Linked DNA regions of Homo sapiens: region 2 is linked to region 1. Evidence: fine-mapped expression QTL. A gene starts in region 1. The other region holds a variant in brackets. All regions are shown on one strand. Distances are from middle to middle. Region 1 holds the start of DOCK5 (dedicator of cytokinesis 5). Region 2 overlaps DOCK5 (dedicator of cytokinesis 5).

Evidence for each region. PIP is the estimated chance that this variant, and not a neighbour inherited with it, causes the effect.
Region 2: its variant is the best candidate, but not a certain one, in a credible set for the expression of DOCK5 in whole blood (TOPMed, PIP 0.74).

The regions. Positions count from the first base shown.
Region 1 is chr8:25,181,806-25,187,179 of GRCh38, reverse strand. DOCK5 (dedicator of cytokinesis 5) reads right to left here and starts at 2,491. Exons shown (of 52, transcript NM_024940.8): 1 at 2,229-2,491. The coding sequence starts at 2,271. It overlaps LOC124901912 (a long non-coding RNA gene), which reads left to right and starts at 2,803. Exons shown (of 2, transcript XR_007060861.1): 1 at 2,803-5,374. RefSeq lists silencers at 2,194-2,243, 2,414-2,583, 2,594-2,673.
Region 2 is chr8:25,205,193-25,210,566 of GRCh38, reverse strand. The region is part of intron 1 of DOCK5 (dedicator of cytokinesis 5); the gene reads right to left. Among named protein-coding and RNA genes, the nearest start is that of DOCK5, 23 kb to the right of the region's middle. The variant C/A (reference allele first, on the strand shown) is at 2,154.

The DNA of each region.
Region 1 (5,374 bases):
ACCCAGGCTGGAGTGCAGTGTCGTGATGGGGGCTCGGTGCACCCTCAACCTCCCAGGCTCAAGCTATCCTCCCACCTCAGCCTCCTCAGTAGCTAGAACCACAGGCACAGGCGACCATGCCCGGCTAAATTTTTTTCGTATTTATTGTAAAGACCCGTTTGCCATGTTGCTATGCTAGTTTTGAACTCCTGGGCTCAAGCAATCCTCCTGCCTCTGCCACCCAAATTGTTGGGATTACAGACGTGAGCCATCGCACCTGGCCCAAATATTTTTCTTGACTGATAAGTGACACAGTAAACTGACTCCAGAACATAAAAACAAAATATTAAAAACAATTATACTTGCTCCTAGGACTATGGCAATAAAAACCACATTTTTGAAACATGTTTGCATTAATTACCCTCAACTGAATAGTTTTGAAAAGAGCTTTTAATCCTGATAAAATTAGAGTTGATAACATTTCTGTAGTGATTGGGCATTGTAAATATGCTTTCATCTAGGGGCCAGGTGAGGTGGCTCATGACTGTAATCCCAACACTTTGGGAGGCCGAGGCAGGCGGATCACCTGAGGTCAGGAGTTTGAGACCAGCCTGGCCCAGATGGCGAAACCTGGTTTCTACTAAAAATACAAAAATTAGTCAGGTGTAGTGATGCAAGCCCGTAATCCCAGCTACTCGGGGAGGGGGGCTGAGACAGGAGAATTGCTGGAACCTAGAGGTGGAGCTTGCAGTGAGCCGAGATTGCGCCACTGCACTCCGGCCTGGGCGACAGAGTGAGACTCCCTCGTCAGTCCGTCTCAAAAACAAACAAACCAAAAAAAAAAAAAAAAAGAGCCCTGAGGCAGAAGCAACATCTCTACCCATTTCTGAGATGCAGCTAAGGGAGAGACTAAGATTCTAAAAGCAACTTAAGAGCAAAAAAGAAAATGTCTTTTGAATTGAGGGAAAACAAAAAATAATAAATATATAAAGGATCACAACCTAAGAATAATATAGTAAATATGAGACTGTTAAAAAACAAAACAAACAACAACAAAAAACCCTGACTCCTGGCTACAGAGTTGAAAAGCCCCTAGACACGTTGAGTAGCTCTTAATTGAGACTGCACTTCATTAACCAGTGAGGTGAGGAAAAACAGGACCTCAGTAAGGGAGTAAAGTCAAAGACTAAATTACAAACAGGCCAAATGAATGGATCTGAGAGGAAGTGATAAAATTCGCAACACACTCAGCCGTGTTTATTGTAGGGAATCACCCCAGGTCTAACTGCCATTGTAATCACCCCGTTCAGGGCAGAAGTCTTCCCACAGGCCCTCAATAACTTCAATCCTTGATAAAAAGCCAAAGGAGCCTGACTTTCCACCTGGGTCAAAATCCCCGCACATCTATTGTTTCGGAGCCAAAGCACCACCACCAGCAACCCCTGCGCACAACCCGGGGCTCTCCAGCACCGCTGTTCTGAATGCCAAGTGCCCAGCACGGGGTCTGGCACAGTTTCCTTAATAAAATGTCCTCTTCTCGTCTCCAGGATGAAACTCAGGATCCGGAAGGCAGCCTTACACCCTCTCCAGACAGGCTCCGTTAGGGGATGAGTGCGCACAAACAGCCCCAGGGGCCAGCCACCCCCTTCCCGTGCCACAACTTCCTGTCCCTTCCATCACTTCCACGCCACGACTCTAGTTTCCATCCAGCTCACAACTGTCATCAAGATCCCAGTCTCTGGAGGAAAGGGGGCAGGGCGGCTTTCCACCCTCAACTCCTCACTTAAGGGGCGTCTGAGAAGAACCTACGAAAGCGGGGGGCAGAAAGCACTGGGACAATGAGCACCAGTCCATGTGCCGACCCGGGCTGGTCACCTACTCCCAGGTGAAACCCACGCTGGGCGCACCGGGGCGAGCCACAGAGCTGCGGCCCCAAAAGAGCAGCAGGCGCGCCCCCCTCGCGTTGACATTTCCCTGGTGTGAAGTGCCGGAGATTGGGATGCAAGAGCGGGATTACGGTCCCGAAGCTCAGCTGCACTTGGAAGCACTCGGAGTCCCCAAACCCTGGGCGACTTCCCCATCGGCGCTCCCTGGAGAGGACTCCTACCGTCCCCGGCTCCCAGAGCTGCGCAGCCGGGCCGAGCCCCCGGCCAGGGTCCTCCGCCGGGCTCTGCGCAAACCTGGCAGGGCCGCTGTCCGCGAACTTGGCCGCGTGGGTCGGGCCGGGACAAGGTGGGGCGCGCACTCACCAACCCCGTACTTCTGCCTCTTGGTCGGGATCCAGCGGGCCATGGCGGCGACCTCGCCCCGCGGCGGCGGCGACTAAGGCTGCTACAGCTCCTCGGGCTCCGGCCGCCGCCGCCCCGCGCTCCTGCGTGCCCCAGACGCTTCCGCCATGTTCCGCCAAACTTCGCTGGACTCCGCGGGCCGCCTCCTCGCCGCGCCGCCCGCGCCCGTGCCCGTGCCCGCGCCGCCCGCGGTCACCTGCTGGGCCGGGCTGCAGCGCAGCAGTGCGCGCCCCTCCTGGCGCCGCCCCAGTCCCTCCCGCCGGCCGCACCCTCCGCCCGCCGGGGCCGCCTCCGAGCCGCGGGCGCCCGGCCTCTCCCGCCCGCGCCGCTCTCTGCGCTCTGCCGGGCGGGGGCCGACTGCGGCTCCGCCTCGCGCGCTTCCCTGGAGCGGCTTCCTGGGCCGGCGGGACTTTGACGCTGGCGGCACTTTGCCTTTCTCCCGCCCTCCCCACCCGGCTGATACCCCGGAGGCTGGGTCCCGGGGGTCCGGCTCCCGACAGAGGGCTGCGCTGGAGGAGCCGGGCACGCCCAGGCCGGGCGGCCGGTGGGCGAGGGATGCGGGCTGCGCTCCCACGGCGCGCGCCGGACACTTGGGGAGCGGAAACGGATCAGCGAGAGCGGCTTCTTGCTCGGGGCACCTCCGGTGCCTGGCACTAAGCGGGCGCGCAATAAATATTTGTTGAATGAATGAGCAGTTGACTTCTGCCTTCACCCCCTGGAGCTTGAACCCGCGCCGCGAGCGGGAGAAGCCGGACTCAGGGCAGACTGAATCTCCCGGGGCCACCGCTTAGAGCCTGGAAAGCAGAACTTTTATCACCGGAGAGCTGGTGCAAGGGAGGTGGGCTCCTCAGAAGTATCAGACCGTTTGCTAGGGGATCCTCTGCAGGGAAATTGTTTAGAAAGCCCTAATTTGGAAGTCCTGTATCCCCAAACTCCGGGGACCCCCCAACCTTAAGCTGAAGAAACTTAGACCCTCATGCCCAGACCTCCCTTTCCCAACCAGCCAGCAGCCCAGAGAGCATTCCCGTGGAGAAAGGGCCAAGGCGCATCCCCGTCTTTTCTCCGTCAACGACTGCCTTTTCTTGACGAAGATCCCAAAGGGGCTGCGCATTTGAACCGCCTTGGGCTCCAGGTGGCGCCCTCTCTGGAGCTCCCCTCTTGGAATTCATTTCTTCCTGGAGAGACTTGGAGAATGAAGATCCAGGGGTTTCTCCCTACCTTGTACCGAGAAGTAACATTGCAAGTAGAGTAAATGACCAGCTTAATTACGTTCACCTTCGAAGAAGATTCCTCTAGAGAGAAATTATATCCTCCTTGCAGCCTGTGAAGGTTTTCATGCGTTTTAGGAATATAAAAGAAAGGAAGACAAACATGTAGTAAAGATAGTAAAGACAGGTAGTTGGCCAGGCGTGGTGGCTCATGCCTGTAATCTCAGCACTTTGGGAGGCCGAGGCGGGTGGATCACCTGAGGTCACGAGTTCCAGACCAGCCTGGCCAACATGGTGAAACCCCTTCTCTACTAAAATACAAAAGTTAGCCAGACGTGCTGGTGTGCTCATGTAATCCCAGCTACCCAGGAGGCTGAGGCAGGAGAATCGCTGGAACCCGGGAGGCAGAGGCTATAAGTGAGCCGAGATCGCGCCACTGCACTCCAGCCTGGGCAACAGGGCAAAACTCCGTCTAAAAAAAAAAAAAAAAAAAAAAGACAGTAAAGATAGATAGGCAAACAAGGTAACAAGATAGTAAAGTTTCATTGGAGAATTAGTGCATTTTAACTTTGGTGGTTTTTTACCAAACGAGGTCTGAAATTTTTTTTAAGTCCTATTCACGGTGGGTAACTACTAGAGCTGGCTTTTTTTTTCTCCATCAACCAATAGGTATTTATTCACAATGTTTAACAATAATTTAAGAAATTCCTCTGTCACTTTAGACTTGACATCCAGAAAGAATTCCACCATCTTCCCTAAAATAATTTATCTTCCTCCATTAGTATATCATGATTCTAATTTCCCAGGTTAGGTAATTTCTTCTTCCTTCTTCACACACATATTAAATGCCTACACGTTAAGTGCCAGGCATCACTCTAAGAATGAGGGTGCAGCGGTGAATACAGTAGAATGTGTCCCTTCACAGAGCTTCTAGTCTAGACGGGGAGAGTAAGACAGTAAAGAAATGTACACCAAACGAGAGTAAACATTAGAGAAAAATCCAAAGCAGGGAGGATAGGGCGTGTAGGGTGCTGCTGTTTTTATGGAGTGGTCTGGGAATGCAGCTCTGCTAAGCTGAGGTTGAGGTGTAGACCTGAAGGAAGTGAAGATTCCGGGAGAAAGTATTCTGGAAAAGAGGAACAGCAAAGGCAAAGGACACCAAGCGTGTTTGGCAGGTTCCCAGGTCACCCAGAGATCCTAGGTAATGAGAGCTGAGTAACAGGTGAGAGGAAACTTGGTCTAAGAGGCAGAGGAATGCCAGATAGAGCAGAACCCTGGCAGGCATATGGACTTTATATATTACTACTACAAGCGAGGTTTGGAGGGCTTTGAGCCAACCTGGAACATATTGAACTTGCCTGCTGTGGTATGAATCCATTGTAAAGGGGCAAGGGAGGCCCACATGGATGGATGTTGGGGGCTATTTCAGTCATTCAGGCAAGACATGAAGGTAGTTGGGTCCAGGAGGATAAGGATGGAGGTGAAAAAGATGTTGGGTTCTTGACATACGTGAAAATAGAGCCTGGCCAGATGTGGTGGCTCACACCTGTAATCCCAGCATTTTGGGAGGCTGAGGTGGGAGGATTGCTTAAGGTCAGGAGTTCAAAATCAGCCTGGACAACATAGTGAGACCCTCCTCTACTATATATATATCCTGGGCATGGTGGCTGTGCCTGTGGCCCTATCTACTCAGGAGACTGAGGTGGGAGGATTGCTTGAGCCCAGGAGGTCGAGGCTAGCAGTGAGCTATGATTGCATCACAGCATGAAAAAGAACCAAGAGGAGGGCCACATGAACGGCAGGGGGATCTACTACTGTGAGGCTTCAATCTTTTTTGGAAAGTTTTCCCCCAGAAAGAGATATGCTTGTATTTTTCTTTTTTTTTTTAAAGAGCCCTAC
Region 2 (5,374 bases), 23 kb before region 1:
TGTCTTGAACTCTTGGCCTCAACTGATCCATCCACCTTGGCCTCCCAAAATGCTGGGATGACAGGTGTGAGCCACAGCGCCCGGTCCCAATCCCTCTTTTATTCACATCTTTTCCCACATATCCCCTCCACAGAGCCGTTATCTGACCATCCCAACTCGACAACAGCACCTCACCCCATCACTGTCTATGGCATCACTGTGCTTCATCAATATTTTCAAAGCCCTGATCACTGACATCATGCTATACATACTGTGCATTTGCTGTCTGTTTCTTCCCGCTTAGAATGCACACATCAAGAGGTTATAGAGGGCCAGATGCAGTGTCTCATGCCTGTAATCTCAGCACTTTGGGAGCCCAAGGCAGGAGGATCGCTTGAGGCCAAGAGTTCAAGACTAGCCTGGACAAAATAGCAAGGCCCCATCTCTACTCGATAGATAGATAGATAGATAGATAGATAGATAGATAGATAGATAGATAGATAGATAAATAGACAGATACACACACACACACACACACACACACACACACATTTATATATATATATATATATATATATAATTAGCCGGGGATGGTGGCATGTGCCTGTAGTCCCAGCAGCTCAAGAGACTGAGGGGGGAGGATCATGGCGCCACTGCACTCTAGGCAACAGAGCGAGGCTGAGACCCTGTCTCTAATGAAAAAGAAGTATGGTGTCTTTTGAGGAAAACACAGGAGGCTCCCATGTTGCTTGCGCCTTCTGCACGAAATGCTGGCAGGGCAGGCTTGCCTCTTGTTGAGAGTAGAAGTGAGAGCCCAGCTGACATTCTAGGTTCCTTCCAAGATCCAAAGTCTCAGAAAAATGCAATTGTAGAGATACAAAAAAAGTTCAGACATCATCTCATGCAAGACTTCTTCTTAAGCTGGGATCCTTGAGTCCCCAAAGATTTCTAAACTTCCTAAAGTTGTATGTGAAATGTCATCGACAGACATATGCACCATTTTCTGTGGAAAGAATCCACAGCTTTCATTACAGTCTCAAAGGAGCTTTATTTCTCAAAAAGTTAAAATCCTCTTGGCATCATCCTTCATTATAGATGAAGAAGCAACTTCTGGAAGGTCAAATAGCTGGTTAGTGGCAGAGTTTGAAGCAGAATTCACATGTGCTGATTTCTAAGCGGTCTCTTGCCTCCACCCCGCTCCCTCACAATGTTCGCTTATTGAAAGGAAGCATCCTTCCCTGGCACTGCCAGACTGGCATCCTGGACCACTGGGCTCCCAGAGTAGCGACCTCATTGTGTGTCTGCCTGAGCCTCGGGCAAGACCCGCCATGCATGACTTTCCCCTTCCTAACAATTTAATTATTCACGAACTTGCGTGTGGTGAGAACATCAGACAGGGATGACGGCGCTAATGTGCTCTGAGCCTCCTTCAAATGGCATTTCATACTAGAGCAGTGCACCCGCGGCATCTTCACAGACCCTCCCTCACCAGATGCCCTCAGCAGATAAAGAACTCATTTTCCTTTCCCTGCTGCTAATGGCTCCAATTTTCTTGTGATTTTCTGTAATGGTAAATGCCAACAAAACATCACCCCACCACATGTTCCTACTGGCTATTCTTTCAACATCATGAATTCCAAACCAGCTCTGCTGGAATGAAAAAGAATGAAAAAATAATATTCACAAGTCATTTGGGAGGAGTGCAGGGAGGGAGGGAAGGCAAAGAAATGAAGGTCATGGGCATATTTTAACCTCAATCAGAAGCAAGTGATTTGTCCTCTATTCTTAAGAAATTTGCTATATAGGCATACCTAGGAGATACTGTGGATTTGGTTCCAGACTGTGCAATAAAGCAAATATTGCAGTAAAGCCAATCACACAAATTTTTCGGTTCCCCTGTGCCTATAAAAGTTATGTTTACACTACAGTCAATTAAGTGTGTAATAGCATTATGTCTAAAAAATGTACAGACCTTAATTTGAAAATATTTTATTGCTAAAAAAATGCATATGATCATCTGAGCCTTCAAGGACTCTTAATTTTTTGGCTGGTGAAGGGTCTTGCTTTGATATTGATAGCAGCTCATGGATCAGGGTGGCAGTTGCTGAAGACTGGGGCAGCTGTGGCAATTTCTTAAAATAAGACAGCAATTAAGTTTGCCAGATCAATTGATA[C/A]TTCCTTTCATGAAATATTTCTCTATAGCATGTGATGCTATTTGATAGCATTTCATAGTATTTCACCCACAGTATAACTTCTTTCAAATTTGGAGTCAATCCTCTCAAACCTTTCCACTGCTTTGTCAACAAGTTTATGGATTATTCTAAATCCTTGGTTGTCAACAATGTTCACAGCATCTTCACCAAGATAGAGTCCATCTCAAGAAACCACTTTCTTTGCTCATTCATAAAAAGTAACTCTTCTCTGCTCAAGTTTTATCAAGAGATTGCAGCAATTCTCACATCTTCAGGCTCCACTTCTAATTCTAGTGCTCTTGCTATTTCCACAACATCTGCAGGGACATCCTTCACTGAAGTTTTGAACCCCTCAAAGTCATCCATGAGAATTGGAATCAATTTCTTCCACACTCCTACTAATATTGATATTTTGACCTCCTCCCATGAAACATCAATATTCTTAGTGGCATTTAGAATGGGGAATCCTTTCCAGAAGGTTTTTAATGTACTACACCTAGAACCATCAGCGTAATCACTATTTATGGCAGCCACCATTTCATGAAATGTATTCTTTTAAATAATCAGACTTGAAAGTCAAAATTATCCCTTGATCCATGGGCTGCAGTATTCATGTTGTGTCAGCAGGCATGAAAACATTAATCTCCTTGTCCATCTCCATCTAAGCTCTTGGGTGACCTGGTGCATTGTCAATGGGCAGTAATATTTTGAATCAAGGAATCTTCTTTTTCTCAGCTGTAGGTCTCAACAGTAGGCTTAAAATAGTCAGTAAACCATGCTGTCAACAGATGTACTGTCATCCAGACTTTGCTGTTCCATTTATAGAGCACAGGCAGAGTAGATTTAGCATAATTGTTAAGGGCCCTCAGATTTTTCAGAATGGTGAAAGAGCACTGGTTTCAATTTAAAGTCACCAGCTGCATTAGCCCCTAACAAGAGGGTCAGCCTATCCTTTGATGCCCGTCACTGACTTCTCCTCTCTAGCTATGAAAGTACTAGACAGCATCTTCTTACAATAGAAGGCTATTTCATCTACACTTAAAATATGTTGTTAGTGTAGCCACTTTCATCAATATCTTCACTAGATCTTCTGGATAACTTGCCACAGCTTCTATATCAGCACTTGCTGCCTCACCTTGCACTTCTATGCTATGGCAATGGCTTCTTTTATTAAACTTCTTTCATCAAACTTCATGAACCATTGCTTTATTGATCGACCATGAATCTTATGGTCGATCAATAAAGTGATGTGCTATATAGAAGGAGGTATGTCTGCATTCATAGAAAGCTCTGCAAAGTACCCTGAGTTGCCACATAAACTTCTTCAGTGATGCCACGGTATTGCAAGGAACAGAGACTCACTCAAATTGCCTCAGAAAAGGGATGTTTTAGACCTGGACTTGGAAAGCTGCTAAGAACAGGGGCCACTCTAGGGCTGTAGGGTCTCTCCACATCTGCTCCCCTCTCTCTATCAATCAGCTTTTTCAGTTTCCTTGTGGTTTCCATTCACAACATTGGCTTCCACATGGCTTCAGGTTGCCACCAACTCAACTCCCAAACGACATCCTTTTAGCTTTTGCCCCTGTGGCAAAACATATTGGTATTTCCTCATTCAAATTCCCAAGAGAAGGAACCTGATTGAGTACTTACTTCTTTGCGTCAAACCATATGTCATTGTCCAGGCTACGGAATGGCCTCTAGGTAGTGTGTCCATCCAGGGACAATCAGTGATGGCCACAGGAATCTTAGATGGTGTAAAACGAGGCTACCTAGGCCTTCCCTGGGTCTTCTATCCAGGCTGTGGGCAGGCAGGTACTGTAACTATTTGTCATGTAGGAACTAGCCCAGGTTTTTCACAGAATACTGGAGCAAACTTGTACTAGTTTGGAAGGGCCAACTGTTACATTTTCAGGAATTTTCAGGAATTCTGTGAGCTATCTCTTAATCCACTGCTGGTCTGAAATTGGCCACTGTGGGAGTATTTACACCACAGATATTGGTGAATGCTACAAACTCAAGTTTTTTCCTCCCACTCTACAGAGCTAGTTTACCAGCACACTATTGCAGCATGAATGGTTAAAGAGGAAGAAAAAAAATCAAGGTAAACAAGTCTCCCCATAATCTGACAAAATCTATATCATTTCCCTCTTTTCCACTTTACCCACCCTTTGCTTCAGCAAGAATGGACAACTTCCTCATTATCCACTTGCCACAAATAACTGCGTTAGGGCCAGGGCTCACGCTGTGCCAGGTCCCCAGCCTTCCCAAACCTGATGTCCATCTCTATAAAGTTCAACTACTTCCCTGAAGCTTCCTCAACTCCCTCAATTAGAATAATCTCTGCTTCTCTAAACTCCAATAACCCCAACTGGACTTTTTTTGCAACTTTTTTCATGTTCAGCCTTCCTTTCCCTGGAGTTATTTATGGCTTTATACTTGGGGTCTTTTAATTCATTATAAACTTCCCACAAACAGAATCTATGTCCACTTCTCTTAAGTGTTAGGAGAAGTATCAATTAAGTGTGCAATGGCATTATCTCTGAGTATTCCAAGTGCTAAGTGCATACCTCCTACTCAGATACCTGGTGAATCGGTGAAGATGAACACAGCATTTATTTGCACAAGTCTTCAGTAACCCATGTCTCTCTCCCCTTCCCACACCTACAATTCTAGACCTGCAAACTCATGAGTTCACCAGCTGATTTGGGCCCTGACAACTGAATCAGCAACAGCAGGATTTTCAAGGCCAGAAGGCTGCTAAAGGCATGTATCTGATGTGCATGTGAATTACTTTCACTAGATTCAAATCCCTGTAAAAGAGGAGGGAAAAATCTAGGATTAAACTACAGAGATTGAACTTTGATCTGGCAACAGTGGACTCGTATTTCAAATAACACGCAACTCCCTGTGTCTCAGTCAGCTTAGGCTGCCATAACAAAATACCACACACCATGTGGCTTAAATAACAGAAATGTGTTTTCTAACAGCTCTGGGGGCTGGAAGTCCAAGATCAAGTTACCATCATGGTCAGTTTCCGGTGAGGGCTCTCTTCCCGGCTTATAGGTGGCCACCCTCTCATTGTATCCTCACATAGCATAGAGAGAGAAAGAGAAAGACAGAAAGAGAGAGACAGAGGGAGAGAGAGTGAGAGACAGCAAGAGCGAGAGAGAGGGAGAGCGCTCTCCACATAAAAGAAGAGACCA